7 separate regions of the Homo sapiens genome follow, and all the other regions are reported to be linked to region 1. Evidence: microRNA targets listed by miRTarBase, many of them from high-throughput screens and not tested one by one. Region 1 holds a microRNA gene; each other region holds the end of a gene's coding sequence.
The links. The annotated mature microRNA hsa-miR-1321 reads CAGGGAGGUGAAUGUGAU and lies in region 1 at 2,156-2,173, opposite strand. An mRNA with a match to its seed (bases 2 to 7 or 8) in the 3' UTR can be bound and repressed. Matches are read on the target gene's strand: a 7mer-m8 pairs with bases 2 to 8, a 7mer-A1 pairs with bases 2 to 7 and ends in A, and an 8mer does both.

Region 1 (4,519 bases):
TTCCCTACTTTTGAGGTTTTGGGACTCCGACTGACTTCCTTGCTCCTCAACTTGCAGATGGCCTATTGTGGAACTGCACCTTGTGATCGTGTGAATCAATTTTCCTAATAAACTCCCCTTCATATACATATGCATATATGCTAATAGTTCTGTTGCTTTATAGAACCCTAATACAATACCTTTAAAAAAAAAAAAAAGAAAACTTTTAGCTCTTTAACTGACCTGAAATTTATTTGGGGGATTTATGTGAGATAGAAATCTAACATAAAATTTCATATATGAATATCCAATTTTCCTCATGCCATTTTTTGAGATCATCTTTTTCACACTAATCTGAAATATTACCATTATCAATTATTAAATTCTTATACATGAAATCTGTTTCTGGACTATATTCAATGTTATTGCTATTTTGTCAATTCCTATACTAAGATGATGTTATTTTAATTACTGTAACTTTCGAACACGTATTGATACCTGGTAGAGTCAGCCTTTCTGCCTCATTTTTTTTTTTGTCTTAGTTATGCTTGGCCCTTTGCTCTTTCATATACATTTCGGAATCATTTTGTCAAGTTCCACACACATACACACGCAAATCCTTGTTGCAAGTTTGATTGGAATTGCATTCAATATTACTTCACTTTCCCATCCATGAATGGGAGGGTATATCACTCATTTTATTTAATTTTTTACTATGTTTTCTAAATAATATTATACCTTTTGGCAGACACTGATAGTGTCCACCAAATATCCATGTTCAGATCCGCATTTCCCACTCTACTTTGAAGATAAGTTCAGGTAGCTGGGCAGTTAAGAGCCAGTTTGCCTCTTGCATTCCTTTTTCTCCTTTCTATAACTAACTAGTAGTCCAGATGGCATTGCCACAGTTTGGAAGCTTCCAGGAATCTTGAGTCAGCTCTTAAAGGGAAGCTGTGCCAGAGAGCCACCTGACTCACATTAACTGTAACTGGAGCAAGAAATAAATTGGTGTTGTGTTACAACATGGCTATTTCAGGGATTATGTGTTACCACAGCATAGCGAACATTACCTGACTAATTAAAAAGTCTTGACCATCTTTTATGTATTCCAAGGCATCATATACTGTTTCTTAAACTTTTCTTTTATAATAATTTGCTGTTGATGTATAGGAAAAAAATTAACGTTATATGTTGATCTTGTAGCTAATAACCTTGCTAAACTCTCTTACTAATAATATATCTATAATTCTTTTTAGTTTTCTATGTTGATAATTATATAATCTGTGATCAATGACAGTTTTATTTTTCCTTTTCAATCCTATACATTTTAACTCTTTATCTTGTCTTACTGAACTGCCAAGGACCTCCAATACAATGCTAAACAGAAGTGGTGATACTAGACATACTTCTAATTTTCCTGGCTGTGAAAAAGGTAAGGTTAAAACAGTTCACCGTTAGTGTATGTTTATTGTAGGTTTTATTAAGTTAAGGGAGCTGACTTCTATTTCTAGTTTGCTAAGGAGCTTTTATCATGAATGGGTCTAGAATTTTGACCAAAGCCTTTTCCGCATCTATTTATTGACTGCCTACTATGGGCTAAGCACTGATCATGTTTTTCACTCCTTTCATCTATTAATGTAATAAACCATATTAATAGTTTTTAAATGTTAAATCATCCTTAAATTTCTCCTGGTGACATAGATGCTCCCACCTCTGGGTTCATTGTAAGCCTGTGTGTGTTGCCAGTGCATAGCATAGCTGCTGGCATAATATAGGCAAAATGTTTTACTCATGTTCCTTATTATTTTACTTAATAAATGATATATTTTATTACTGTATTTGTAATATTTCCAGTAGCAGAATACTATAAAACACATATCTTAAATAAATTTGAGTTAGAATAAGGCAGACATGCTCAACCAATCCCAAGAATCATATTGTATATTGTTCCACAAGAAGAGCTAAGAAAAAAATATTTAGTGATTAGAAAAATTATATCACTATCTCAGGTGGTTTTCTTAATTTCTTCATTATACGGTTTTAAGTGGGATTTTAGATTTCATTAATATAAACTCATAGGGAGCAATAAATAGTGGGAAGAAGAGAGATTTGAAGTCAGACAGACTTAGGCTTGAATCCTGTCTCTTTAACTTTCTTAACTATATATCTATCTTTGATCACATTCACCTCCCTGAGTTTATTTCCTTATTTGTAAAACAGGGATAATAATACTTGCTTCATAATGTTGCTATATTTGCATTAAGTAATCAAAAAATAATATAAAATATCTAGCATATTGTGGACCTTAAATAAATGTTAGTTCAAAAATGAGTATGAATAAATGAATATACATTTTTTCCTCAGAAAAATTTAATATGTCGAGAATTCTAAAAATAAAAAATCTATGAATGAGGTGTGCCCAGCTTTACACATCTCTGAATAAATTGGGGTTCTTTGTTTTGACTGTTTATCGGTGGTTGATAATTGTTCCCATTTAGAAATATATTATTAATGTCACAATGCAACAATTTGTGAAATTTATGTTATTAGTCTATATATTCTTACCTTTGGAACTACTGTTAATCCCAAATAGGTATCACGGCTCTATTTTTAAACATTTATATAACAAAACTATCAGTAAATATTATTCAGGGTTTAATTACGTTACTCTACTTTTTTCCTCCAAATAAATAGTTATTCTAATCCACTATATGTTCAGACATTCTCTCTCTCTCTCTCTCTCTCTCTCTTCCCTCCCCCTCTTCTTCTCTCTTGTTCATTTTTGAAGTAATAGAATTATCATTTTGGGGGAGAAACTTGATGTTCTCAAATGTGTTTGGAATAATAATGTTCTAATAAATAAATTTGAGTTTCCCAAACTTTTACATGAGAGTAAAGCACTAGAACCAAGGTCTCTATAGAGAAGAAGAAGCAAAAAGGGGAGAGTGTAGAGAAAGGATGAAAAAAGAAAAGGAGGAGAAGAGGGAGGAGGAGGAGCAAGGTTTCAATTAAGTAACTCAAGTGTAATGTGTGCCCCTCTCAGTTTCCTGTCTGCTGCCAAATCTAGGGAGTTGCTAAACTTCAGTGGTCTACCCCTGAAAATTTTTATTATTAGAGCCATCATTTTCAGTGAGTGGAATGAGGTTAGAAGCTATGTGGTCTCTATATTACTTGGAAAATATATCATTTGGCACTCCTCAATGACATTAGACTGTACATTTCTAGATTGATCTGCACAGTTCTTGTCAATTGGTAGGGATTCAATCTATGTTGAGTTAAACCAACTGAGATAAACTGCATTAAACCCTTTAATTTTACATAACACACCCACCACAGAAAAAATTTAATGGTAGTCCTTATCCCCAAATAATTTTCAAAACAAAGCAATAACAAAAACAGTCACTGAAGGGTAACTTATTGAAGGTATGAGAAGTTTTCATTGAAAATGCTCCCAAGTGACAGGCTTACAGTTCATAAATAAAGATGACAATGCAATGGCCCAGTATTTTAAAATCTTAAACACTTTTTTAGTGAAGGCCTGTGAGGTCATGTGAGCTAATATGACAGACACTGAATATTTACTACTCAAAAGCCATTCAGAATCCACTTCTCCCTTGCCTTCATCTACTATGGACGCTGTCTCACATGCAGATAAGAGTGATTATGTGACATGAAAGTAGCCAATACTGAGTATTCTTTGCCCCCAGTTGCAATTTCCTTTGGTGATATGAAAAATGTTTCTAGGTTCATTGTAATATATTAGCACAAAGTTCTTGTCTTGTTTGTTCCTGGAAAAAGTCTTTACAGTCCGTAAGTGCTGTTTTCCAAATTGTTCCCTGTAAGCAAATCAAAGAAAGCCAATCAAAATGACAATGTACATACTTTAATGTTAAATACAAAAAATCAGAATAAAAAATTATTAGTATATATCTCCTGATTTTGTTCACATACACATGAGCAAAGAAAAAATACTTGATGGAAATGAGGCTTATAGGAAACATATTAAAGTAGTAAACTCAAGGTAGGATTTGAAGTGATTTTTATTTTGTTAATTAGAAAATTTTTAATTGAAAAATAATTATATATATTTACGGAGTACAATGTGATGTTTTGATATATGCACACATTATGCAATGTTGAAATCAAGCTGATTCCTATATTTGTCACCTCATCTTAACTTTTTTTTTTGTGGTGTGTATTAGTCCATTCTCATGTTGCTGCAAAGATACTATGCAAGACCGGGTAATTATAAAGGAAAGAGGTTTAATTGACTCACAGTTTAGCATGGCTGGGGAGGCCTCAGGAAACTCACAGTTGTGGTGAAAGGGGAAGCAAACACGTCCTTCTTCACAGGGCTGCAGGAAGGAGAATGAAATGAGTGCCCAGTGAACAGGGAATCCCCTTATAAAACCATCGGATCTCGTGAGAACTAAGTCATTATCAGGAGAACAGGATGAGGGAAACCGCCCCCATGATTCAATTATCTCTGTGGGGACACAGTCAAACCATATCATGGTGCCAGCATTTAAAATCTATTCTC
Region 2 (4,519 bases), not on the chromosome of region 1:
TTCAATGTAGATGAAACTGCCTTCTATTGGAAAATGACACCATTTAGGACTCCCATAGCTAGAGAGAAGTCAATGCCTAGCTTGTTTCAAAAGACAGGCTGACTCTCTTGTTAGAGGCTAATAGAGCTGGTGACTTCAAGCTGAAGGCATTGCTCATTTAACATTTTGAAAATATAGGGGCCTTAAGAATCATGCTAAGTCTACTCTACCTGTGCTCTATAAATGGAACAATGAAACCTGGATGATAACACATCTGTTTACAGCATGATTTACTGAATATTTTAAACCCACTGTTGAGAAGTACTGCTCAGAAAAAAAAGTATTCTTTTCAAAATCTTACTGCTTATTGATAGTGAGCATCAGAGTATATGGTCACCCAAGAGCTCTGATGAAGATGTACAAGATTAATGTTGTGTTGTTTTCATGCTTGCTAATATATCCATTCTACAGCCCTTGGATCAAAGAGTCATTTCAGCTTTCAAGTCTTATTGCTTAAGAAATAAATGTCATAAAGGTATAGCTGCCATAGTGATTCCTCTCATGGATATGGGCAAAGTAAACTGAAAACCCTCTGGAAAGGATACCGTTAAGGACATTCATGATTCATGAAAGGAGGTCAAGATACCAACATTAACACGGGTTTGGAAGAAGTTGATTCCAACCCTCATGGATGACTGGGCGTTTGAAGACTTCAGTGGAGGAGGCCGGGTGTGGTGGCTCACGCCTGTAACCCCAGCACTTTCGGAGGCAGAGGCGGGTAGATCACAAGGTCAGGAGTTCGAGACCAGCCTGACCAACGTGGTGAAACCCTGTCTCTACTAAAGATAAAAAAATTAGCTGGGCACGGTGGTGCCTGCCTGTAATCCCAGCTACTCAGGAGGCTGAGGCAGGAGAATCGCTTGAACCCGAGAGGTGGAGGTTGCAGTGAGCCCAGATCACGCCACTGCACTCCAGCCTGGATGACAGAGCAAGACTCCTTCTCAAAAAAACAAAACAAAACAAACAAAAAAGAGACTTCAGTAGAGGAATTACAGGCACATGCCACCACACCCAGCTAACTGTATGTTTAGTACAGATGTGGTTTCACCATGTTGGCCAGGCTGGTCTCAAACTCCTGACCTCAAGTGATCCATCTGCCTTGGCCTCCCAAAGTGCTAGGATTACAGGCGTGAGCCACTGCGCCTGGCCCATGGTAAAGTATTTTAAATTAAGGTATATACATTGCTTTTTAAAGACATAATGCTATTGCACATTTAATAGACTACAGAATAGTGTAAACAGAACTTTTATATGCACTGGGAAACCAAAATTCATGTGCCTCACTTCATTGCAATACTAGCTTTATGGTAGTGGTCTAGAACTGAACCCTCAGTATCTGAGGTATGCTTGTATTAATCTGCATTTACAGACAAATTAAGGCACAGAAATGATCTTACAGTCACTTCAGCTAGAGTGAAAATTCAGATAATGCCTCAGCCCATGCTTCTAACCAATCATACTGTGAGTGTAGCATGCTGGTATTCTCAGAACTATTTCCTTTATCCAGAACAGTGCTAAAATTTTTTTTTATGGTAAATGGTTTTAGGAAAGGCATTTAGGTAAAGCACAATCCTCCGTTTTACACCTTACTTTACATATTTACCATCCCTGCCAAACCACTCATTTTGACATGGAGCATTTCTATTACAGAGGGTGTAGTTGCATCTCACTTTATTTAAATATTTTCCTCTTTAGCCTTTGAAAGCTCCCACATTAACTGTATCTTCTCCAGTGAGTTGTAGTTCTCACACAGAACCATTACCCTTCCAGTCACTAGTGTATTTAAGCTCAAGTGAGTAAGACTAGTAATGATTAAAATGAACCTCACAATAAATTTTTAGCAAGGTAAGTTTAAGTCCCATCAATATTTTCAATAAATACTGGAAAGATGCTAAAGGCAGCTTCCTGCTGTAGTGTTTCTTGATGTATGGATCTTTGCTTTATTAATTTGTTAAATGAGAGCTGATGAAACTATTTTCCCCCAAATAACAGTCATAGAAACATGTTACCTATTTGAAAGAACAATACCATTAGTTAGTTAAAAAATTTAATTGTAAGGATCAAGCAGTGGTTATTGGTGAAACCAATACACACTGACAGCTTTGAAGTGTTCAGATGCTAATTTTAAAATAAATGTGACAAATACCAATCAGATGTTCATAACACTTTTCAGGATCCACATCAACTTGATTATGGACATAGTTCAATACACAAGGGTAAGAGAAAGAGTGTGTAATCACCAATAATTAAACCAGAGGCATAATTTTTTCAAATAATTTTTAGTTACAGAATAAATTCTAACTTTTTAAAGTCTAAAGCTACATAAAACTCAAAGCAATCTATTTTTCTACCTGAGGTCAAAATGACTTTCCTTTTTCCTAACTAAACATAATTCTTAGCATTGAGGTAAATCTGAATTCATGTGGTATGCTTTGTCAAACTTTTCCAAAAAATTTTAAGCCCTGCTTTAGAGAGAAATTCTCATGTTACACATATATATTTACATATTTTTTCTTCAAAGACTAATGACAATGTATGATGTTAATAGGCCTGTAATGGAACCATGATACTACTAATAATATGAAATAAAAAGCCACTCATTTATATAAAGTGTTCCTGAATGGTGCAATAAGAAATGGGATCACAGATTTATGTACATATATGAATCACTAAGAGTTCAGAAATTAAGCTCACTTTAAGAAAACTCAGCCAGGCACAGTGGCTCACGCCTGTAATCCCAGTACTTTGGGAGGCCAAGGCGGGTGGATCACGACGTCAGGAGTCCAAGACCAGCTTGACATGGTGAAACCCTGTCTCTACTAAAAATACAAAAATTAGCCGAGCGTGGTGACACACGCCTGTAATCCCAGCTACTCAGGAGGCAAGGCAGGAGAATTGCTTGAACCAGGGAGGCGGAGGTTGCAGTGAGCCCAGATCGCGCTATTGCACTCCAGCCTGGACAAGAGAGCGAGACTCTGACTCCAAAAAAAAAAAAAAGAAAGAAAACTCATTCTATTTTTCTCTTTGGAGCAGAGGTTGCAAAACTGTGATGCCTAACAAAAACGTTGTGTATAAAAGCTCCAAAACCAAGCATTAGCCTAAATTGGCTATAACTGCAACTTAAATCAAAAACTATATCCAACTAGATCTTCGTTGTGGCTATGCAACTTTTTGCTTTGTGGCCTGAAGGTTTTTACTGAGGTAACAACCTCTTATCTCTTGTCCTTCCCTCAACCACAAAAGCAAAAATAAACAACAACAAAAAACACCTCTACAGCTTCCTTCTTCATGGCTGTCTTTGGCAATGCTTCCAAATCTTGAAAGCAAAAGAACCTGCTGAAGTATATGAGGAGGATGAAAACACTAAACATGACATATGAAAACCAATCTAAGCGTATGAATTGAGAAAGAAAATACTAGAAGGAAGGCAGAGCAGCAGTCGGCCCTCAACAGAAAACAAAAAAGAAGGAGGGCTGTAACTGCTCTGGCCCTTCTTCCATATTATCTCCCAATTAGAAGAGCGTGGAACCGAAAACTTAAACTCTGAAAAGGTAATAACTTTCAAGGAGGAGCTACGGAAGTGAATAAATGATAAAGAAGAACAGCAGTAGCTTTAGCTGTCAATGAGTTTCTTTGCTCTGGCATTGGCAATATCAATACGATCTCTGTTGGTGTCAGCCTGAAAAACAAGAAAGATATCAGCTTTACAAGGTAAGTAACTCTAATAAAAATTAAACTTTTTACACTTGGAGTAACTGACACACCAAGAAAATCCAAGAAACCACGTGAAGTTACATTACAAAACTCATGTTGGGCAAGAAGTAACAGAATATGAAATTCATTTGGAAAACCCCTGGTATATAAACATGACAAAGGTGTAACATATAAGACCTTGCCAATATTTCATAAATTCTATAACGCATTTTTTCATAGTTTAACATGCCTGAAACTGGGATGCATCCTGTAATCAATGGCATTTTTTGATGCAATGAAATATGAAAGAGTGCTCTTCTCTGTTAAAGATCTGGACCTTGTGTGAGTCCTCTGAACTGAATCATAGAATCTCATCTGGATTCAGACACCCTAAGTCTAACCTGGAGAGACTGAAATAACCTTTCCAAAGATCTTTGAAACGAATCTATTACCATCCTCACCAACATCTGAATTAAAATGACAGGTAAATATAGCCTAAACCCAGACTGCAGCATTTAAAGCATCTTGTGAACCACTGTTTCAATTAAATCCATCAAAAGTGATTTAACAGAGAGCCAAGCTTAAAAACTCACCCTAAAGTTCACTGAGATTTTAATGAGGTATGACTTTCTTTTTTTCCTTTCTTTTTGAGAAAGGGTCTCACTCTGTTGCCCAGGCTGGAATGCAATGGTGCAATCACAGCTCACTGCAGCCTTCAACTCCTACACTCAAGCAATCCTTCTGCCTCAGCCTCCCGAGTAACTGGGACAATAGGCACATGCCACCA
Region 3 (4,519 bases), not on the chromosome of region 1:
ATCTTGGCCCTTGAGTGACATTTTGCAGGTTCTGAAGAAGGTCACAGCCTTGAGCTGATCAAAATCACGCCCAGCCAGTGCGTGCTTTTACATGGGTGACACCGATGCAGAACTGTTGGTCTGACTCCTTGCACTCTAGGAACTGTGCAATGGCCACCTGATTAGTTTTCAATGTCATGGCCATCAGCCTAATATTGGCACTGTTCACTAGCCTGATTTGGTTTTGGAGGAAAAATTAAGCACAGCTGTCTGGTCCACTGTTGTATTCTATACCTAGACAAGATGACCAGGGCTTGGGGGAAAAAAAATGTGCCTTGATAGCCCAGCCTCCTGAGGAGTGGTTGGAAGGTTTCAAAATACTGTTCTACCTCTTGGAGGCACAATATATCAGGCTGGTAGAATAGGATTTCTTCTAGCGTGAGAAGCTTCCTTTCTTCTCACTTGAGTGTTTCAACAGGGCATTGTACAAAGTTGTCTTTGTCTTTCCAAGAGCTTGGATGAAGTTGTTCCATTGCATGACTCTAATAGGTAGGTAGTTACTGGAGTCTGTCCTCAGATCCACAAAATCTCTCTGGAACCAGGGAAGTTAAGTATCCACGACAGCCCTGCATTCCTCAAAAAGCTGCTCTTTAGGATCTATGGGCTCCAGATGTTCTAGGTCAGGTAATAGCAAACACTCTGGGTGCAGGAGGCAGCAGCACTGCTGTTCAGTGTCTTGGCGAGAGCGCTAGAGTCTGCTCATACTATTTCAATCGTACTTCGACTACCCATACAACCGTTCTGCTTTTCACCTTCTCTACAGTATTAAGTTACATGGTATATTCAACACTTTATTATAAAATAGGCTTTCTGTTAAGATGACTTTGCCCAACTATAGGCTAATGTAAGTGATCTGAGTACATTTAAGGTAGGCTAGGCTAACATGTTTGGTAGGCTAAATTTATTAAATGCATTTTTTACTTAATAGTTTCAACTTACAATGGGTTTGTTGGGATGTAACCCCACTGTAAGTCAAAATGCATCTGTACTGATTCATTCACCTTGAGTTTAATAGGGGGAAATACACCTGGACGATCCTAAGAACATAGCTTGCAGGACAATTACTGCACCGAACGAACCAGCAAATGAGAGGCCCCCCAAGAGCACTAGAATGGCAAGCTCTACTAAGCAAATATACTGATCATTTTTCAAGCTGTAGTTCTATTTAAACCAATTTGCACTGCAGTTCATTTCACAGAAATTACTTCATAGCTTCAGGAATCCCCTGTGAAATCCTAAATACCAGCACTACAAATTTAAATTTAACTTAAAAATACTTAAAAATAATGAACTAATCACTGAACCAGCATGTCTTCATATATACCTGCACTAGACTGGTTTTGCTTAACTCACAGGCTACCAGTTATTTTATTAAAATTCAACACAAGCTCCACTAAAGGACAATAGAATTAGCTACACAATTAAGATACAGAAGACAGCATTAAAGCAGTAACACCAGGAGTTAAAAATTTTTAAACTGGCTTGAACAGTTAAACAGGTGAATAAACCAGCCAGTTGTGTGGAAGAAACCTTGAGGCATTCATTAATAGCAGTATCTGGTTCCTACGAACCCTTCTTAAGCCCAGTGTTTTCTTATCTATCATCACATTAGAATTTAACATTCCTGAAAGCCAAGTAAGGGCAAAGACCCTTTTGCCAAATTTAGTTGGAAACACTAAACCAAGTCAAGGTCACACTATTAGTGAAGTTTACTACAGTCCTCAGCACAATGTAGGCAGTCATAGGCATTAAGTGAACGCTGATTTAAGATAATGCCTCCAGCCTCATAACTAATCATAGTACCCTTTATTATCAATATTCATTAGCTATCATTACACGATGCTCACTGTGCTGAGCTCAGAACTGTATGAATAGCATTTAAATTAATTCTAACAATTCATTAAGTAACGTTATTAACCTCATTTTACAGATATGGAAACTGAGACTTAGAAAAGCAACTTGCCAAAGTCACTCAGTATGTCAGGGGCCTGAACTTGAATTAAGAGTTTGATTCAAGAGCCCTGTTCTTAACTACAGTTGAACCTTGAACAACACGGGGGTTAGGGGTGTCAAACCCTTGTGCAACCAAAAATCTGTATATAATTTTTGACTCCCGCAAAACTTAACTACTAATAGCCTACTACTGACCAGAAGCCTTACTGATAATATAAAGTCAATTAACATAGATTTTGTATGTTATATGTAAGAGATAATATATTTTTTATACAAACATCAGGAACAATATATATGTTATATTCTTACAATAAAGTAAGCTCTCAGAAAAGAAAGTTAAGAAAATCTTAAGGGAGAGAAAATAAATTTACTGTTCATTAAGTGGAAGTGGATCATCATAAAGGTTTTCATCCTCATGATCTTTACATTAGTGGACTGAGAAGGAGAAAGGGGAGGGGTTGGTCTTGCTGTCCCCGGAGTGGCAGAAGCAGAAGAAAATCTGCATGTAAGTAGACCTCTGCAGTTCAAACCTGTGTTGTCCAACGGTCAACTGTACTACCCAATCCTGCCTTCCAAGCCACTGAAGTTGGTGCATAAGCTAAAACCCATGCCATTCCAGAAAGAAGTGGTCAAAAAGATCAGCAGACTTATGTTTTCATAAATTCATTCTTAGTAGACTCATGAATTTCAGTCTTAATTCACTCATTTGGAAAAAGTTACACTACAATCCCTCTCTCCACTGATACAGCTGTAGTGTAGGTAACACAACTTAGTACATGTTAAAATGTTACTCAAATGAAAATATTATGGGGTTATTCTGATCTACTAGCTAGTGATCTATCTGTAACTATCACACATCAGGATCACGCTACTATGTTCATATCTGTAATATGAAATGTAATTTGACATCACCACAGAAGTCTTCTCACCTAGTGGTTCTCAAGGAAAGGAAAGTAACCTGTGGGCCTTTCCCAATTCTGATTTGTCTTCAAGGGGAATTTGTCAGAATGAGGTGCACAAAGCAATGAGATGTGTTCTACAGATGATTCTATTGCACACTCTGGCTAGGAAATCACCTTAGTACTGTGGTCTAGAATACGTAAACTTAGGAATTAGTATGTTCGAATTGAAATCCTTTCTCAGCTACTTACTGACCATTAGAACTAGGGCAGCAAGCTATTTACATTCTGTAAACCAAGCAGTCACTGCTGTGCATATAAATAAGCCCTAATTATTACTTGCAATAAACCTTAGTTACAGAATCCGTCTGAATTGAATTTCCTGAATGTAGCAGAGTAGCCTAGTCCAGTGCTGTTAATTCAATAACTCTAACAACGAGCCCAAATCTGCTTCTTTAAACTTATCTGCGGTTATTCTAAAGCAAAACATATTCACTTCCTGTTTGACATGAACTTATTAACCGATTCCTAATTGCATTACAAGAGTTTAAACATTAGCCATATCACTTAAAAAAGAAAAAGCCATCTTTTCCCAATAATTAAACTACTAAAGAATAGATGGTACAAAAAGGTTTGCATTTCAATAGAACTAGCTTTATTTACTTATTTATTTATTTAAACAAAAGAAATGGTTTAAAAGCAAATGCATATATGTACCAAGGGATGGACATGACCTGGTACTTACAAAGGAGCTGCTGTGTCATAATGGAAACAGCATATTAGGAGAAAAATAGTATTTCGTGTGCTGTCTGCTTGAGTAATCAATCTGGAGATGCAAGTTAACCGAAGGTGCTCTGCCAAGCCATCAGCGTGAGAAAAAAAAACCACCAGAAGTTGCCTCCAGATAACGATGTAGTGGCAGCATGATAACTGGCATCAACTCACGGTCTTCTCATTTTCCCCATTTTCTATAATTTTCCTCTTCTTTTCATCTATTTTTTTCTTGAAGATGTTATTTCGGTAAAACTGAAGCTCTTTGATGCTTTCACTAATGTCATCAAGTGCCCTATAAGCAAACATACCACAATGAATGAACTGTCCAAAACCAGGAGATGAAAATCATTTTAAAAGTACAACTTTTAAAAAACGACTTAAGAACAATGGATGTTACTGTAAGTGTCACTGTCTAGCATCATCAAAAGTAGAACATTTCAGAAAAGCAATTTTCTTTAAATGCTTTGTTTTTTAAAAACTTTTGACAAAAAAATTTGTAAAATATAGAAGATTAAAGTTTCCCAAATTGTTCCAAAAGATGGCGACATGTTCCACAGGGAGAAAAAATAATTCCACGGTCAAATAAGTTTAGAAAAACTAGAGTAAACTTTTTACTGAAATAAAAAGTTGCAAAGCATTTAATATACTAATGTGTATTATGAATTCCCAAAAGGAAGCTGTCCTATATTTCTAATTTATTAATTTTCTAAAATTAATAAATTTTAGTATTTCTAAAACTTAATCGACCACATTTGTAGAATACTTATAAACAGTTCATGGAACACAGTTTGAGAAACATTGCCCAATACTTGATGATGTCCCTCAACAAAACAGACTGACACACTTGAACATAA
Region 4 (4,444 bases), not on the chromosome of region 1:
ACAAAATGCGTACCTCTGTTGTTACAAAAATTACCGCGGCGTCTTTTATATTTCACATGCAGTTTTTCACATGGTAGAAATCGCACAGTTTCCCAAAAGCTGGCAGGGTTGTGGGAGGAGGCGGCTGTGCCCCATTGCAGTGACACCAGGGGACCCTTCCCACGGTGCTGCTCTCTGTGCCGAGGGTCTGAGTGTCGCTGGATGACTCGGCGTTTCCTTTCTTTCTTAGGGCATGGATTTCATTGGTCGCGACGCCCTCCTGCAGCAGAAGCAGAATGGAGTGTATAAACGCCTCACCATGTTCATCCTGGACGACCATGATTCAGACCTAGACCTTTGGCCTTGGTGGGGAGAGCCCATTTACCGGAATGGGCAGTATGTTGGCAAGACCACCAGCAGTGCCTACAGCTACAGCCTGGAGCGCCACGTTTGCCTGGGCTTTGTGCACAATTTTTCTGAGGACACGGGGGAAGAGCAAGTGGTGACAGCAGATTTCATCAACCGGGGAGAGTATGAGATTGACATCGCGGGATACCGCTTCCAGGCCAAGGCCAAGCTCTACCCTGTCGCCTCCCTCTTCACCCAGAAGCGCCGAAAGGATGACATGGAGCTGAGTGACTTACATGGGAAGTGATGCCACCAGGGCAGCCTCACCTCCTCCCCATCATCTTGTCCTAGAGTGGGCGTCACCTTGGAGCTTCTCTTCCTTCCGCCTCTGTTCCTCTTCTGGAGCCTTTGCCTCCCATCTCTTATCTCCTTGATATAATTTTGAACTTGACCTACTTTAAACTTTTTTGCTCTGCAGCCTTCCTTGCCCTTCCACCTCCTCCTCCTAATATTCACTCTGGGCTCTTCTTCCCTTCCCACCCCTCACTCAGCTTCTCGTGGTGGCAGGAGGTATGTCTGACAGGACAGAAGCAAGCTCCACTGTGGACATGAGTGATGGTGACAGCTGCTTTCAAATTCTGCATCTCAAGGCAGGGCAAGCCGGGGTGGTGCAGGTCTCAGGGCACGAGTCCCTCTCCCTTGGGTTCCATTTTCTTGGAGCAGCCTATTAGTTCTGGTGGGGTTGCCGTGTGTCGGATGCAGCCCTGAGGGGCAGCTCGTGCCTGCAGCCCGGCAGCTCGTTCTCCTGTTCTGCTGTGCTGTGGGCTGGCACTCGATACCTCTGGCAAGAGGATGATTATCTACCTCACTGATAAGAGGCATCGCATGGACGTTCTCTGGTCTGTAGTGGAGACAAGCAGTTAACCTAGCACCATCCTCATCCTCCCTGCAGAAGCCATTAGCAGACCTTTGGGCCAGGGCAGCCTCCCTATAATTTTCTTCATCTCTTGCTAATCTCTATAATAAGGTTGCTTTTTCTTTCTTAGTTGAGTAAACAAGTAAGCCACAGTGTTTGAAAGGGAAAAACCATATTGCCTTGTGTGTTGCTTTTCCCAGTCAAAAGGGTCTGACCTTAGAAAGTCCCCACCAGTGATGCTGAGTGTTCTGCTATGGAAACAATGCTGCTTTTCTCTCAGCTGTCCAAAGTTCAGCCGTTCCTCCTTCCCCTTCTCCCAGTGCGTTTGACTTTGTCAGGTCAGCCTCACTTGTCCCTTTCACAGTTGGCCCATAAAGTCATGTTTCTCTCCCTTTAGAATAGGGAGGGGAAGGGATCAGGTGTGTTGTCCTGGGCCTTTCAACCTTGCGGGCTGTGCTGAGTTCCAGAGAGCTGCCGGAATTCCAGGTTTGACTCTCCAGCACAGAGCAGAGCTACACAGAGGTGACCCACGTTAGTCCACTGAGAGTTCTGAGTCCAAAGGGTGTACGTTGCATAAGGCTAGAGACCGCTTTTCCTCCTTTCCCCCCAGGCTCTTTGTTTCCCTCCACCCACCCTTCCATATCCTCTGGAGCAGGAGACAATGTGGGTGCCCAGAAGTGCCCTGCGCTTTCAGGCAGTGTCTCTGTTTTCCCAAGGTGAAACTTAGATATCATGGACTGTTGTCCAGCCTCAATGCTTCATTTTCCCCTTGCATATCAACTGCCCTAATCTGACTTTTTTTAAGTGCAAATAAACTGCTATAAGACATTTTGGTTAGTAAAACTCTAGCCTTTGGCGTGTTGGTATCTTGGAAGCATTAGCTCTGATAGGTCTATAAGTGTATTAAGGGACATCCTTCCATTTCATTAGAGCAGCTTAAAATGCTCAGGTGTCTGCCTTCTCTGGTGTTTCTTTGGGATCTCTGTTTACCCACTTACGCTGGCTCCTTCTAGACATTTCTTGCCACTTCCCCAACTAGACCACTCCTAGTGATTACTGACTTTAGTGCCTAAACCTTTTTGGAAGGTTCTGGTTGGCTTGTTAGAGGAGCATATGATTAGAATTCTGTTTGGGGGTCTAGTTGTCTTGGAGCAAGTATGTACTTAACTAGCCGAGAGATGCTGCCTCTAGGCAGAGAGGAGGAGAGGTGTTGCCGGCTGGAGGGCCAACCAGTGAACACCAGCTGTGAAGGCCTTGGGAGAGGAGGAACAGGCCCTTGGGCAGATGCAGGCATTACCAGCAGGGAGCAGACTTACCTCCGAAGATGGAGACAGGTGACTGAGAGCTGCAGGCCTCCTCTGCTCTTCCAAACACGTAGCATTTGCACCCCTCCAAAGCCATCTTTGTAAAGGAAAACGTATTTGTAATTGAATCCAGAAGAATTTAGTTACACATAGACATAACTCTTCAACCTTAACTATGGCAATACATTTGTGCTTTAACTGTTACATAGCAGTATCACCACTTACCAGGATCCAAATCGAAATAATAAAAGCTGTCTCCATAGTTTAAAATCGAATAGTGCCATCATCACAGTATATTAGTCAAATAGAAGCTTCATCAGAAATGTATCCCACATAGAGTTTTAAGACTTGGATTCTCTTCTGCCCTTGTTAATCTCCAACTAATTACTACAGATTGACACGTTTTTAATTAGCTGTCCTTTGTAAGAAGTCAGGAAATCTGATGCTGTGTCCAAAATTATGCACTGTTTGTTGAAGTAGAACCAGAAATCCTGACCTCCTGTTAAATGACATCAGTTTCCCCCTCTGAGCAACAGACTGCTTGTCTTGCTAGGAGAGGAGGATGGGGGGCTGAGCACTCAGGCTGTCCATTGAAACCCCTTGTCCATGAATAGGGTCATACTCCTAAGACTGATGGGGTGTTGATCTTCTAGGACATCACTTGTTTATTCAGTGCCCCAAACACAGATTTCTCTTCTAGCACTTTAGAGTTGATCCTTGAAGTCTCTCCTGGTTCATTCAAATACAAGCTGTGTGAGTCTGGTGGTTTTCTGTGATTGGTCTAATGTGAGCTCTTTGAACAGACAGATCTGACAGTGAATGACTCTCCCCTGCTTCTGGCATAACTGCTTTGCCTCTGTCTAGTGTCCAAGCATCTTAGCTGTTCAAGAGGAGAGGGCAGCATAACTTCCTGACCACCGGTGTCAGATATCAGAGCATTCTGGACTCCTGAGAGGCAGTGGCCTCTTGAGTGAACAGGGGAGGCCAGTAGATGCCCCAGATCCAGAGCCGTGGCTGCAAATCCAGCAGGAATAAGGAGGGACAACCACAGCCTCCTCATCCATGTGTCATTTCCAAGGGTTTGCCTTGTGTCTCAGCTCATTCTGGGCAGCACGTTTGTCTTCTGTCCCTAGAGATTTGAAGGATTTTGGACTCTTGTGAATGGGTGACTGGACTTGGCTTTACAGAGTTGGGTGCTTTTTTCTCTCTGCAATTACCTGTCATAGCATTTTGTGCTCACCACGAAGGATGGTCTCTGCCTTCTCTTGTCGGTGTATGCCATCTGAACCTAGGAACACAAAGTATATTGGCCTCAAACGGAGACCCAGGGTTGCCAGTTTTCCGTGGGCCTTCCCCTCCCTTGAAATGTCTTTAATTACCTCCCCTTCATCGTCAGGCCACGTGTGACTTCTGTTCTTAGCACTGCCAGGGTCATTGACTTCCATCTAAGCTTGCATCAGGAAGATGTTCCTTCTGTGATCATTGGTACTGAAGCCAGAAAAGCTCTCATTCAGGAACTCTGAAGAGCAAAAAGGGACAAACACTAACTGCTGAGCTGGGCCATTTGATCTCCTTTCACCTTGCATTGCTGTCACAGCACCTTGTATGATGGCAGGACAGGCTCCAGCAGAGAGAACTGCACAGTGACCACTGTATTTTTCACGCTCTTCCAGGGATCCCTGTCCCCCGACATTGAAGAGATCTCATTCAGGCCAGAGACACAGAGACCACATAGCCCAGTGATTAAACCCCGGTTTCACTCTGGCCCCAGGAGTGGAGCCTGGCCACTCCTGTTTGGTTCTCACTGGGAGGCCCACTGGCCTTGGATCATCTCCTCATGCACACCCGGAGTTTTACCTGCTTGCTTGCTTTCCTGGACTGCTGTTTGCAAGAAAGT
Region 5 (4,519 bases), not on the chromosome of region 1:
TCTGCTAGGAACCATGGTCAAAGGTGAGAGTGAGGAGGGAACAGAAAGGGAGTGTTGAGCTCGGGGTGGCTCATGTTGGTTACAGCATGAGGGGTCAGCACTCGCAGGTCTGCTGCCCACCCTGCCCCCAGGGGCTGCCTTTTTGGGTGTCAGTTTGTGACCAACGGCCTTGGCTCCCACGGGTGCTGCTCTCCCAGCACCATGCATGGAGACCACTGGGCCCCACTGTTCCCTGTCCTCCCTGGGCCCAGTTCACAGCAGGTGTCAAGGCTGTGTGTGAGATCTGGCTAGAGCAGGCCCACCTGGCCCTGAGATGCCATCCCCACCTCCCTTTTGGAGCTGGGTTGGGTGGTGGTGGGGACAAGCAACAGAGGGAGTGGGACTCCAAACACATGTGGGGGTGACACTGTGCACTTGGTGGCCTGGGCCCCACTGACCCCCAGCCTATCACCACAGGACCTGCACACAAACAGCCCAAGGCACAGCAAGGGCTCCTACAATGACTTCAGCTTCGTGACGCACACCAATAGAGAGGGCGTCCCCATGCGTAAGGGCGAGCACCTGGGCGAGTTCAACCTGGGCTCCACCATCGTGCTCATCTTCGAGGCCCCCAAGGACTTCAATTTCCAGCTGAAAACAGGACAGAAAATCCGCTTTGGGGAAGCCCTGGGCTCGCTCTAGAGTCTCTTTCCTGATTATGGCTGCTAAGGGATCTTTTCCAAACAGAGTGAGGGTCTTTTCAAGAGGGAGGCCCATGAGGCCATCCAGGTAAGGGCCTGCCTCAGCGTGGTTGGGAGTCTGACCAGGTAGGACTTGAATGATTCGGCTACCACCTGTTCCAGAGGTGCAGACAAGAGGTGGCGAGAGCCCCCATCATGCCCCTCAACCTATCCCGTTCCTTCTGCCTACAAATAAAAAGTGCAGGCTGGAATGATCTCAGTCACATTTGGATCTTTTTAAACACTGTATAGACGGAAGAGCCTGCATTCCTGACCGAACCTTCAGTTGGTCTCGGTTGTCGTTTTTTCTTGCTGCTCCTCCCCCCATCACCTGAGCTGTTTTCTGTTGGCCCCTTTTGTTTTTTGGCCTTAACGCTCCTGCTGCACAGGGTGAGGTGCCTCCTTGGCACAGACTGTGGATGCCTCTCCCCCAGCAGAGCCACACAGCCTTCGTGACAACTGCTTTCCGTTCCCACATTCACCTCATCCTGCTCTTTAGAAAAAGCAGTCTTTGTGCTTGTGGCTGAACGCATCACCCTGGACTCTGCTAGTGTCTTCTGAGGACACTGATGACACTGATTAATGATACAGACCTTTGCAGGACCTGATGAGTGACCCTTCTGGAGCTGGCCAGGTCCTCTGCAGCAGGCAAGACCAATCAATCACTGAACCTGCCTCATGGCACCAGAGTGAACAGGGCAGGCAGGTAGTAGGCCCAGCTGGGGAAATGGGAGAGTTCCTGTCCCCCTCCACATATCCCTACATGAAATATGGGAAAGTTGCTGCTATTGATTCAGGGTCTGTCTTGGAGGCAGAGGACCCTTGGTGGATAGTTGGTCAGTGCCTGGAAAACCTGTCCCAGTTTATCAGGAACGCAGGCCTGGGGAGCCCCCAGTGGCGGGGACAGGGCCAGATTTCATGTTGACCCTGGGGATGCTGTGAATTTCTCCTGCAGGAGAGACATCATTGAATTTTTTCAACTGTATCAGTAGCACAGTATTTTTGTATGAAAAGTGGGAGACTTCTGAACAGTAATTCATTTAATTGCAAAGCATTTTGAAATAAAAAAAATCAAACTTAAAACTGTGTTCTGTTCCTGGAGGTGGCCTGAGGCCTCCCCGACAGCCCAGCACCTGCGTTCCTGGTGCGAACACGCTAGCACAGGGCCTGCCGCAGGGCCTGGATGCGGGCAACGCAGGCGCCAATGGGCTGGCGCTGAGCCTGGAGCTCCTCTGCCAGCAGCTGGATCTGCATTTCCACCTGGGGCCATGGAGGGACAGGCAGGGCTGAGAGGGAGCACAGCCCGGGGCGTCCCCAGGGACACCTGGGGATGGCCTGGGGCCTCACCTGTTCCAGCTCTTTCTGCACCTGCTGCTCTACTTCCTGGTCCTCAGGCCCCGGCTCCTCTCTGTTCAGCTCCAGCCACCTGCGCAGGCTGCTCGCTTGCCGCCGACAGGACCTGAGGGGTGGAGATACCCACTGCCTGCCAGGCTGGGTCCTTGGCAGAGCCCCATCCGGCTCAGGGAGAGGCACCTCAGCTAATTCTGATGCGGGTATCGGGTGGAGAGAGGTGGTCTGGTAGGGCCCCTGACCTGAACTGCAGGCCCCTGCTTGGGAGCCAAACACTTGTTCTTTTTCCTCTCCCAGTCTCCTCCGCCCTCCCCAGCAGACAGCAACTCAGGTGGGCCTGGGCAAGAACACACTCCTTGTCTCTCTCCCCCTGTGCAGAGCCAAGGATGAGGCGCCAGTCTGTTGCCCTGGAAGCTCTGAGGTTGCTGCATGTTGAATGGTCCCCAGACCACTGAGTGCAGCTGAGTCACGGGCCTGTCTCCTCTGCATTTTTTTTTTTTTTTGAGATGGAGTGTTGCTGTGTTGCCCAGGCTGGAGTGCAATGGCGTGATCTCAGCTCACTGCAACCTCCGCCTCCCAGGTTGAAGCGATTCTTCTGCCTCAGCCTTCCAAGTAGTTGGGACTACATGCGTGCACCACCATGCCCGGCTAATTTTTGTATTTTTAGTAGAGATGGGGTTTCACCATATTGGCCAGGCTGGTCTTGAACTCCTAACCCCGTGATCTGCCTGGATCACAGCCTCTCAAAGTGCTGGGATGACAGGTGTGAGTCACTGCGCCTGGCCCTTCTCTGCACCTTTAATATCAGTGTTATAATTAGTCACTGGGGACAGCATGGCCTCATCGGGTTTTTAGAGTTTTGCTCAACTTTATCGTCCCCCCCATAGGAAGCAGAGCCTCTGTGCACAGGTGAGTCTGACGACTTGGGCCTTCCTAAGCAGCACTGAGCCGGGTAGAGAGCCATGGTGGAGATGGGGTCTTTCTGGACAGCACACACTGAGGGCTCCCCACACCCCTCCATGGCTAGACCGAGACCACCTACAGGACCCTGGCAGCTGGCTCGGGGGAAATGGAACTGCCTGCCCACCTCTCCAGGCAACACCTGCTCCTGTAGCCAGGGCTGCAGGGCGTTTCGCAGGGCTCACCAGAGGTTCTGCTTGGTGGTCTGGTAGTGCAGTAGTTGCTGCTGGATCTCCTCAAGTTCAGCCTCAAGGTCCAGGCTGCCTATGGCGACAGAAGTAAGCTTGTTTCAGACTATTTTCCCCTCGGGGACCAGGGTAAATAGCAAGTCCCAGGTCCGGGAGTGGCCTGAGTGCTTTCTGCCCTGACAGGCCCCAGGTACACACCTGCAGTTGAAAGTCCAGGCCCAGCCCTGGTGGCTGAGAAGTCCCCAGGAAGGAGTAGATGGGGGTCAGGGACACTGGCCAGGGATGAGGGGACCGGGGGCTTATCCCTAGGAGTAGCCCGCTGTGCTGACACCTGCAAAGGAAAGAAGGGTAGATGCTGAGCAAGGAAGCTAGGAGGAAGCCAGGGAGGGGGACACCAAGTCCTTGTCACTGCCTGCCCTGCAGGGGTGGGGGAAGACCAGGCTCCCAGCTGCAGGAGCTGGGCTTCCCAGGCACTGGCCGTGCCAGCTCAGTGTCTAGCCTGCCCCTGCACACAGGGCCTGGTACTGTAGGGGAAAGTCCCGCAAGCAACCAGGGAGCACCCCGTGTCACCACAGTCCGCCTCACGCCTCCACTGCCTGAGCAGCTGTTCCTAGCCTTGCCTTACCCAACCCTCCACCCCCACCTGCTCTAAGCTCATGACCTTGCTGAGCTTTGACATCAGTGAGAAGTGGTCAGTGAGAGGCCACTGCTCTACAGCCTTTTCCATGCCCTCCTCTCCTGGTGAGAGTGGACTTGCCCCTTCCATCACCGGACAGGGGTCAAAACCCTTTCAAACCCACATTCAAACCATTCCAGCCAGGGTAAGTGGCCCCACATGGCCTAACTCACCACAGGAACTGGTTCCTTCCTGTCCCCTCATCCCCTTTCAGGAACCAGCTGCTTTGGTGGCCTTAGAGCAGCTGTCACTTCCATTACTGAGCTCTCACACCCCCTGGCCATCCCCACCCAGGCTCCCTGCTTGGAGCCTCCTCCCCTCTCTCCTTCCCCTGTACTCTCCTCCTAGAGGCCGCAGTGGCTCTGGGGTTACCTTCGGCCTGTGCTGAAGATTCTTCTCAATCTCTGGCCCTGACCTCTTCCTTGAAGGTCAGACTCAACGTTTGCTTTCTCTCAAATTTGACATCAAGAGCCTGGTTCAAAACACTCTTGACACTTCACCCCAAACCAGTCCCCACCCCCAGTTCCTTCTTCCAGTCAAAGAACTCTGTTTCCCAAGTTATTCAAGCCAGCAGCCCACATCAGCCTGGATTCCTTCTTTCCCCTCATTCAGCAACTCCCTCAGAG
Region 6 (4,519 bases), not on the chromosome of region 1:
GAAGGCAGCGCCCCCTGCTGGCGATATGAAGGAAATGACGCTCACCCCAGGGAGCCTCAAGTCCTTCCTCAATGTCTGGTGCCCTGAGGGTAGAGGATCCAGCACCATGGGCTACGTGGCCCCTCCCCCAGGCCTGGCGCTACTAGGGACTGAAGCTGTGTGGTTCCCCTGCCCCCAGTCTTTCAGCCTGTGGGACCTTGGCTGGGGTATATAGATGGGAATTTCTGCTTTTAATCCAAAGAGACAGAAAGAAAACTCAGCAAGAAGCTGGGCCACCCCCAACCCATTCCTAAAACCCCTCTGGGTACAAAAGCCCCAGCCTGGCATCTTCCCCACCCTCCAGGACCCACACAAAAACCTAAACAATTGGAAACATGGCCAGATCTCAGGCCTGTGCCAGCGCCAGCCATGGGGGTCCCACCCGCTGGGCACAGTGCCCACGGGAAGGCCAGCTGGACTCTAGCACTAGGGGCAGAGTCTCTGAGGGGGCGGGGTTCTCGCAGGAGGGAGGGAGAGAATGGGGATGCCCTTTCTTCTCCATGGGAACAAGGTGGGTGGTGGCTGCCCGGCACCCTGGCTCTTTGGGAGCTGGACCCTTGAGGGGCCAGGTCACTGGGCCAGGTAGGAGTGAGATGGGACCTGCCCCAGCTGTTCTCAGTATCGCCTCTTTTTCATCCTGTTTCAGTCCTGGTTCCTCTGATAAGATCGACAAAAGAAACAACAAAATGAGAAGAAGAGGTTCCTCGAAAGGGGGGAGAAGAAATTTTGAGAATGGAAAAATCCCCCAGCCCAGCCCAGCCCCACCGAAAAGCAAAAATTACACGTCGTCAGCCACTCAGCCCTTCTCTCCTCCAGCCCGGGGACCCCCGCGGGCCCCAGAAGCAGCCCAGTTCTCAGAGAGCCCTTGGAAGGGGTCTCGGTGGAGCTGTGCACCAGCAGCCAAGCAGAAAGAAACACGCGACATGGACTCTGTCAAGTAGAGGACAGAAAGCAAGAAAGGATGCAGAACTGCCTTCCTCCCCCTGACCCCGCCCCGGCCTTCTGGGGAAGGAACAAAGTCCCCAAACAAAGCAACCAGCACAATTCTGAAGGGGCCTGGCCTCCACCCTCACCCCTTCCTAGGGGAACCCCACCCTCCACACAGCCGGAGCTGCCCTAGGGAGCCTGGAGGGCCAGCTTGTAAAGATGATGGGGTTTAGATCCCTCAGGCTCTCCCCTCCAGACTCCGCCCTTCCCTCCCTCCCTCCCTCCCTCCCTCTCTGCCAAGGCTCCAGCTTCTTCCCCCAGCTGCTCCCGACCAGGAGGGGGAGAGCAGCCTCCACTTACCCCACCCCACCCTTGGGCTAAAAGCCCCCAGGCGGGCAGGGGGTGACCCCTGGAGCTAGTTGCGTGTCCCAGAATGGAGGGTGTTCTGACACCCCACCCTGAGCCGCAAGAGCAGTCCTGGGGCCCTGGACCCCTCTGTACAGTCCGTAGGAAAAAGTCGGAATGCTCTCGACGGCCTCGTCCCAGCCTGGGACAGGCCCCCTTTCCCCTCTCTCTGCAGGCCAGGAGGGCCTCCTTCCTGCCACGAGGGAGGGGAGTCGGGCCCCAGGTCGCCCCCGCCCCCAGCCCTGCATGCAGGTGCCCTCGCTCCGCCCCATCAGTTCCTGCCCCTGCCCCTCATGCAGACTGCCCTGCTGGGGCCGGGCCGGAGGGTGGAGCAGAAAGGGGACCCCGGAGCCGAGCGAGGAGGACCAGGCAGCCGCCGCTGCCGCGCTAAGCCACCACCTGCGCTTAGGTAGGCGTCCTGCTCGCCGACTTTCAGTTCCTTGGGAGGGTGTTGGGTGTCGTCCTTTTCAAAAGTGTTTTGGAGCTTTCTGTGCCCCCCGACTTTCCCCCGCCTCCCCGCCCCCCACGTGGCCACTTTTCTCTGGATTTTAGCTGTAATGTCTTTACTCTTTATTTAGGGGTGGGGCATTCATTGTTTGGGTCTTTTGCTGTTGGAATGGGAACTCCTCCTCCATTTGAGCAACTTGGGAACAATTTGGTAACACACCACAGGAAGTAGCTCTCCCCCCCAGCCCCCTCCTCCCTCAAGGGAGGGTTGGGGGGCCTGTCCAGAGGGTCTTCAGAAGCCCCCCTGGGAGGGAGGGGAGGATGAGCACGCCCAGCTCCCCTCCAGGGTGTGACTTGGCCCCTCTGGCTTGTCTTTCTGTGCCTTACTCCTCCTCCTGCGTCTCCCGTTCCTGGCCCCTTCTTGAGTCCTTGTGCCTCTCTCTTTCTCTCTCTTTCTTAATTGTATGAAAACACAAAGCACAGGTCAGGATCCTCTGAGAGAAAATCAACATTGCACCACGTAGGGGTGGGCTATGGGCTGTATTTATTGTGAATCTAGTTTGTGAGGCTGTGGCCCCGAGCTGGCGGAGGGAGGGAAGAGGAGGGAGTGACGGGAGGGGAGGAGGTCAGCGACCTGGGGCCGTAGCGGCAGGCGAACGGTGCCTGCTACCCAGCTGGAAGCCACAAGGTGGCTGGCTCCAGGGGCGGCTTTTGTTGGAAGTTGAGTGAAGCCCTCCCCCTGTCCTCAGCGTGCAGCCCTAGAGGACCCCAGGGCTGAGGGGCAGTGGATCCTGCGGGAGTCTCCCGGGGCGTGGGGAGTAAGGCCCCGGGGGTGGGGGGCCGGGTGGGCCGGGCGTGACGCGCGGTCAAAGTGCAATGATTTTTCAGTTCGGTTGGCTAAACAGGGTCAGAGCTGAGAGCGAAGCAGAAGGGGCTCCCTGTCCGGCCCACGTGCCCTTTCCCTCGACGACAGTCGAGGGCTCGGGCTCTGTGGGACTGTGGGAGCTAGGGTCTGCGGGGCGCCTGCCCGGGCGAGGTCGGAAGCTGCAGGCCAGCTGGGCCCGGGCCGGAGCGTGCCCGGCGGGGCTGCCCGGGCGGGCAGGGGGTGGGGGCTGCTCCTTTCCCAAGTGGTGTTGTGAGGGGCAATGAGGGCAACAGGAGATGTGGGGACGTGTTAGGAGAGAAAAAAAAAAAAACAAAAATATATATGGGGGAAATTAACTTTTTTTTTTCATTGAACCAAGTGCAATGCATCAGAGAGTTTTCCTATCTTTGTATGTTAAGAGATTAAGAAAAAAAAATTCTATTTTTGTTGTAATGTCCTCGCGGCTCTGGGGACGCTAAAAGAACCGGGCCTGCCCCGCCCTGCGCGGGGATAACGAAAGCTGAGTGTTTTTCCCTTTTTTTTGTTCGTTTTTAGTTTTTTTTTTTTTAAGTCGTTTTCCTGCGTTGACGAGGATGATCTGGGGTTTTTATTTGTTTCGTCGTTCGTTCTGTTTCGGTGGGAGGGCTGAAGGAAACGTTCACATTTTAGAGTTTAAAAAAAACACCTCGACATTTAAAAAATCAACCAACACAAGATCAAAAAGGAAAAGGACGAGAGAAAAATTATTTTTAAGATAATTAAACATAAAACCCTGGTGCTTCTTACATTATAAAGTACGTTTTAAAGAACCCACAAACTATTATACATAAGTTTATGAATCAATTAAATATCCTGCACTTGTTAGGAATACGCATATCCCTTCTTTGTTGAGTTTAACGGAACGGGACAGCGGCGTGCCCCCGGCGGCTGGACTGCTCCGGCCGCGGGTCTCCCCGGGCGCCCCTCCCTGGGGCCCAGCACCCCTCCTCGCCCCATCCCCGTCCGGGTACGGGGGCGCGGCAGGGGTCCCCGGCCCCTCCCCCGCAGAGGTCAATGCCAACGAACAAACGTCCCCTCCCTCCCTCCCTCTCCGCCCCGAGCGCCCTTCTTTGAGCCAGACGCCAACTTGACCCTCACCAGCATTATCAGGAGCGCGCTCAGCAAGTTGGTAGTTTCCTCCCCCCTTTCCCGGCGCCCCTCCCGCCCCCATTCAACATCTCTCATCCTATCCCCGACCCCCTCCGGGGAACACCGGGAAGGCTCGACGCTCCAGGACAGGACCAGCCACGCTGACAGGTCGATTTGCCCAGGCCCGCGCCCGCACGCACGCACGCACACGGCCCCGCACACAGCCCCGCCCCACCCCGCAACCAGCCCTGTCGACTGCCTTATACACCCGCCCCCGCGCTGGCCGGCCGACCTAGTGCCTTGTTCTCACCCCCGTGCTGGCGGAGCGGACGCCGCGCTCTGGGTCCCAGAGGGGCCGGGTGGCTCAGACGACCCACCACTCCCCCACCCTGACCGTGCTGAACAGACCCCCCCACACGAGAGAAAATAAAGGAGCAATAAAGTCACGAGAACTTTCGTCCCCCAATCGAGAGCCCGAGGGGCACCCCAGCCCCGCCTCTGCTCCCCCCCACCCCACCCACCCTCGGGGCGCCCCCCTCCCCCCGCAAGCCAGCCTGGGCCAGCCCCGCTTCGGCCCCTCCCGGGAGATCCGTGCGCCCGACCAGCACCAGCATCGCGGACCGCAAAGGCCGCCCGTCCCGTCAAACAAGTTTCTTCTTAGGCTAAGAAACGCAGTATATACGAGTATCTCTATATATAGTACTAATG
Region 7 (4,519 bases), not on the chromosome of region 1:
TACTGCAAACCTTCATCACAGGGATGCCTCCAACAGGCTGCTCTGCTCTTCCTCAGGTGTATGTGCTCAAGAGGCCTTATGTGGATGAGTTCCTGAGACGCATGGGGGAACTCTTTGAATGTGTTCTCTTCACTGCCAGCCTGGCCAAGGTACCTAGGGGTGAGAGGGAAGAACCAGGAGTGGGTGTGGTGGCCACGGGGGTGGTCCAGCAGCTCCCTTTTGGTCCCTAGGGTTATACAGGAGGACCAGGAGTGTATCCAAACTAAGGCATCTTCTCTCCTCCTAGTATGCCGACCCTGTGACAGACCTGCTGGACCGGTGTGGGGTGTTCCGGGCCCGCCTATTCCGTGAGTCTTGCGTGTTCCACCAGGGCTGCTACGTCAAGGACCTCAGCCGCCTGGGGAGGGACCTGAGAAAGACCCTCATCCTGGACAACTCGCCTGCTTCTTACATATTCCACCCCGAGAATGCAGTGAGTGCTCCTGATGCGTCTCCACGGTAGGGATTGGGAGAGGAAGCAGACTGGAACTGTGGGCTCCACCAGAGAAGTACACCCCTCCAGGAAGACCCAGCCACCCTCTAGGGCTCTGGGGCGAGGGAGGGGGAAGCAGCAGTCGGGAGATTGACACCACATCTTCCCCCCACCAGGTGCCTGTGCAGTCCTGGTTTGATGACATGGCAGACACTGAGTTGCTGAACCTGATCCCAATCTTTGAGGAGCTGAGCGGAGCAGAGGACGTCTACACCAGCCTTGGGCAGCTGCGGGCCCCTTAGCCTGCCCTGCTTCCAAGCGACGGCCATCCCAGTAGGGGACTTTCCCACACTGTGCCTTTACGATCAGCGTGACAGAGTAGAAGCTGGAGTGCCTCACCACACGGCCCGGAAACAGCGGGAAGTAACTGGAAAGAGCTTTAGGACAGCTTAGATGCCGAGTGGGCGAATGCCAGACCAATGATACCCAGAGCTACCTGCCGCCAACTTGTTGAGATGTGTGTTTGACTGTGAGAGAGTGTGTGTTTGTGTGTGTGTTTTGCCATGAACTGTGGCCCCAGTGTATAGTGTTTCAGTGGGGGAGAAGCTGAAAGACCAAGACTCTTCCCAAGTTAGCTTGTCTCCTCTCCTGTCACCCTAAGAGCCACTGAGTTGTGTAGGGATGAAGACTATTGAAGACTCCATTGCCAAACCATGGCCTTTCCTCAGTGTTGTAAGGCCTATGCCAAGGATAAAGGAAGGGTATGCCTTTGGGTACTCCAGGCACACACCTTTCTGAAATCCTTCTCCAGCCAGCTGCTGCAGACAAAAGATCACATTTCTGGGAAGATGAGAACTTGTTTCCAGACCAGCATCCAGTGGCCATCAGGTCTTGTGGCCCAAAGGCTATGCTTGCCTCCGGCTGAGTGCCTGGGATAGGCCTTTTCTATGTCTCCCCAAGGCTGGGGTGCTGAGCCTGCCTTCCTCACCACCTAGCCATAGTCTCAAACCTGTGGGGAAGGAGGTTTTCTCCCTGCCCGGGAAGAGGACAGATAACTGATTTCCGTTCTTTTGACTGTGTTTTAAAATTCTCTTTCTAAACACAGAGTGTTGGGCCTGGTTTGTTTCTGACAAAGTTACAGTCCTGGGCCTGTAATGAATGTCGGCGGCGCTGGGGTTGCAGGGAAAAGACAAATCCTCAAAGCGTGGACGTGTGTCCCCATGGCTTGTGGATCAGCTAAGCTCGGGATCATTTCCATAAGTCTGCTTTTCAGGGATTCTCTGCTGGTGCTGGTGCAAGGACTTCTGTTCCAAAGGCTGGGAAAAACTAAGCTGTCCCAGCCCCTCCCATTTCTTGGGCAGGGCTCTTTTCCTGTTGTGTCTTCCCCCAGGGCCTGTCCTGTACCGAGCTCTGTCTGTTCCAGCCTTCATCCTTCCTGGCTGTTGCTTTTCCTCTTAAGGGCCTCAGAACTCTTGCTCTTCCTGGGCTGAGGGGGAATGAGTGTTCTTGCCATTTGCCAGCCTAATGCGCATGCTTTCTGCCTCTGGTAACAGGAGTGAGTGAGCCCCTCAGACCTGCACTCTGGGTGTCTCCTGCTTTCAAAGGTTCTTAATAGTGAATGCTTTAAAATTAAAGTCATCACGAAATGGAAGTTTTCCCAGGGTGGAAAATAAGAGGAAGTGCTGCTGTAATTGGGAGCACAAGGGGCCTCCCAAAAAGGAGCCCCACCTCAGCATCACTGCCTTAATCGTGGCCTCCCTGGGGTGGGTGGGGTTCTCTCCTCCCTCCCTCCCTCCTCCTGGGGTGGGAGGGCGCTCCTGTTCCCATCTCTGTGTTCCCTGGAGGCAGGTATCACAAAGCATTTGTGAATTGCTTTAGGTGCAGGGACACCACCCACTCAGGACTCTTCCCCATCATCCCTTCCATTGCCACACCCTAGATCCAGCCTCAGGAACTAACAAGTTTTGAGAAAAGCAGGTAGTAGAGCAGCAGCTTCGTGCTCTCAGCGGTGGCTGGCTGGCATTTTTCTCTAGCGTTGTGGTGCCACCTTCCCTTCTTGTCCCAAGGTTATAAGGCCTTGTCTTTCTCTTTGGAATCATAAAGTGGAACAGAGTCCCCAGAACTCATGTGGCCATTTCCGCCAGCATCACTCCCCGGTGCCTATGGGGTCCCGGTGTACCTAAAGGGAGAAGGACCCCATGTGCTAGCCAGAAATATACTGTCTCTTGAAGGAAAGCAGGAGCTCAGACTCTTAGAGCCAGCTGTGGCTTCGGACCCAAGGCCTGACCTAGGCTGCTATCCTAATATTGCAGGAGGGGCCTCTCTTCCAAGCCCCACCCTAAGGGTTAGCCCTTGGCCAAATCTTTTGCCGTCTAGGCCCAGCCAGGCTTTTCTGACTAAATAAGCAATAAGAGGCTCTAAGCTGACTGAGTTGCAAGGACCCTTTCCGCCCTCCCTTGGATCTCCATGTTTTTCCAGATGGCGGAAGAGCATGTGCCACCCCCTTTCCTAACAGACTTGTCCAAGTGCTTGGCGTGGGACCCATGACCAAAGCCCAGGATGGCTTGGTGGGAGTGTCCCTGCTGCATCTGCATGAAGCCCCTGCTTTTTAGGCCTCACTCCCATCAGAACCCTGCCTGCCCACCTGCAACTCCCCCCCAACAATGCCATTCCCACTTGCCCCAGAGAAGCTACTCGGCCAAACCTAGCCAGGGTCTGTTCTTGTGGACCAGAGCCAGCCTAGTCATTATTTGCTGTCGGGTTTCCAGTTTCACCGTGTGTTAGGGTGAGGGATGATTGTAAAATTTGCTCCTCAAAGGAATCAGGCCAGACTCAATTTTGGAGGGCAAGACAGGGAGGAGGCCGCTTCATCCCAGACTCTCTTCTAGGGCTTCCCACCATCAGCCCCTCCCACTTGAGACTGGTCTTTGGGAGGCAATAGGCCACCATGCCTGGTCAGCACCAATTCAAGCCATGCCAGGAATCTGCCTACCTGCCAGGTTCAGTTCTTTTAAGGTGCCTCTTCAGGGACACAGTGTGTCTCTCTGATTGGGCTTCTAAATCAAAAGCCTGATGTTCGTGTCCCTCTCATAGGGGGAGCTTTGGACACAGGACCAGTTTGGAAAAGGGTCAGGTAAGGGTTTCCACTCTGCACATTGTAGAGGGAACACTCTGTAGGCCCATGGGTCCCTTACTAGAGAGGTTGAGTGAATTTGCCTTCAGTTAACATGGGACCTTCTGTTTAGCTTCCTCTTGCTTCCCAAAGATTTTAAGCATTTTGTAAATGTATAAACTCACCTCTGGTAACAGTGGCCCAGACGCTGCTTTGTGCTAAAAGCATGGGAAATGTAAAGGCAGTCTTTCTCTGGGAAATGGATGCTATTCTATTCTGCTGCCCCTACCTGTTCCTGAGGCCTCATTTAGAAAGAAAATCCCCTCAGAAGGCTGTCTGGCACCCAGTGTCCTAGCCAGGCCAAGTATATGAGAAAGGTAAGTCCATTTTCCCCTTCAGGTCCTCAGTGGATTACTTAACCACTGCTGTCCCTCGGTCCCTTTTTCCTAAACGGGTTTAGTTCTGTCTTTTTTCTCCTTTTTTCTAAATGCTGGTAAATATTTACATTCAGCCAGGGAAGAGGAGGCCAGAGGTCGGGCCAGCTGCCCCATTCTTTTAACGTTGTAGGGCCTGCCCATGGAGCGGACCCTCCTCTTTGGGCCTCGTGAGCTTTTTTGCTTATCATGTTCCATTTCGTGCCGCTTTCCCCCTTCAAGATGCCATTTGGAGGGTAGGGGATCTGCTTCCCACTGTGACTGGGCTATGGGATTCTGACTACCTTGCTTACAGATTCATGGTTTGATAAATTTGTTGTATTCAAAAACTTGAAATGCAGGACGCCATTAAGTGTCTGTTTATATTTTTGGAATATTTGTATTACTTACAATTAATTAATAAAAGTGGGTTTAAAAAACCTTTCCAGGAATGTGAGCTGCCACCAACCTTCATTGGCCCTTAAGTGTTCACTGGGCCCATGGCAAGCACCGCCTTTCTTC

Region 2: the mRNA of SNAP23 is a reported target of hsa-miR-1321. Seed matches in the 3' UTR shown: 7mer-m8 at 2,946-2,952.
Region 3: miRTarBase lists REXO2 as a target of hsa-miR-1321. The part of its 3' UTR that is shown has no 7-base or 8-base seed match.
Region 4: miRTarBase lists PDPR as a target of hsa-miR-1321. Seed matches in the 3' UTR shown: 7mer-m8 at 1,269-1,275, 8mer at 1,311-1,318 and 7mer-m8 at 3,902-3,908.
Region 5: the mRNA of PISD is a reported target of hsa-miR-1321. The part of its 3' UTR that is shown has no 7-base or 8-base seed match.
Region 6: the mRNA of NFIX is a reported target of hsa-miR-1321. Seed matches in the 3' UTR shown: 7mer-m8 at 1,235-1,241, 7mer-m8 at 1,239-1,245, 7mer-m8 at 1,243-1,249, 7mer-m8 at 1,247-1,253, 7mer-m8 at 1,251-1,257, 7mer-m8 at 2,070-2,076 and 4 more.
Region 7: the mRNA of CTDSP2 is a reported target of hsa-miR-1321. Seed matches in the 3' UTR shown: 7mer-m8 at 2,226-2,232, 7mer-m8 at 2,252-2,258, 7mer-m8 at 2,256-2,262, 7mer-m8 at 2,260-2,266 and 7mer-m8 at 2,923-2,929.

The regions. Positions count from the first base shown.
Region 1 is chrX:85,833,486-85,838,004 of GRCh38, reverse strand. It overlaps MIR1321 (microRNA 1321), which reads right to left and starts at 2,225; the gene lies at 2,147-2,225.
Region 2 is chr15:42,530,612-42,535,130 of GRCh38, reverse strand. It overlaps SNAP23 (synaptosome associated protein 23), which reads right to left. Exons shown (of 8, transcript NM_003825.4): 8 at 2,073-3,718. The coding sequence ends at 3,653. It also overlaps a transcript of LRRC57 not described here. Among named protein-coding and RNA genes, the nearest start is that of LRRC57, 16 kb to the left of the region's middle.
Region 3 is chr11:114,449,284-114,453,802 of GRCh38, reverse strand. REXO2 (RNA exonuclease 2) reads right to left here. Exons shown (of 7, transcript NM_015523.4): 7 at 3,524-3,957. The coding sequence ends at 3,828. It also overlaps the pseudogene LOC100422382. Among named protein-coding and RNA genes, the nearest start is that of REXO2, 12 kb to the right of the region's middle.
Region 4 is chr16:70,156,246-70,160,689 of GRCh38, forward strand. PDPR (pyruvate dehydrogenase phosphatase regulatory subunit) reads left to right here. Exons shown (of 19, transcript NM_017990.5): 19 at 230-4,444. The coding sequence ends at 634. It overlaps LOC400541 (a long non-coding RNA gene), which reads right to left. Exons shown (of 3, transcript NR_126007.1): 2 at 2,560-2,644; 3 at 95-259. Among named protein-coding and RNA genes, the nearest start is that of CLEC18C, 15 kb to the right of the region's middle.
Region 5 is chr22:31,615,774-31,620,292 of GRCh38, reverse strand. PISD (phosphatidylserine decarboxylase) reads left to right here. Exons shown (of 8, transcript NM_001326411.2): 8 at 457-1,802. The coding sequence ends at 681. It overlaps SFI1 (SFI1 centrin binding protein), which reads right to left. Exons shown (of 33, transcript NM_001007467.3): 30 at 3,416-3,548; 31 at 3,215-3,293; 32 at 2,067-2,178; 33 at 1,705-1,979. The coding sequence ends at 1,875. Among named protein-coding and RNA genes, the nearest start is that of MIR7109, 3.5 kb to the left of the region's middle.
Region 6 is chr19:13,093,950-13,098,468 of GRCh38, forward strand. It overlaps NFIX (nuclear factor I X), which reads left to right. Exons shown (of 11, transcript NM_001365902.3): 11 at 686-4,519. The coding sequence ends at 700. Among named protein-coding and RNA genes, the nearest start is that of LYL1, 6.6 kb to the right of the region's middle. RefSeq lists a silencer at 1,569-1,658 and enhancers at 1,970-2,833, 4,079-4,218.
Region 7 is chr12:57,819,857-57,824,375 of GRCh38, reverse strand. CTDSP2 (CTD small phosphatase 2) reads left to right here. Exons shown (of 8, transcript NM_005730.4): 6 at 57-149; 7 at 287-472; 8 at 649-4,449. The coding sequence ends at 774. Among named protein-coding and RNA genes, the nearest start is that of MIR26A2, 2.6 kb to the left of the region's middle.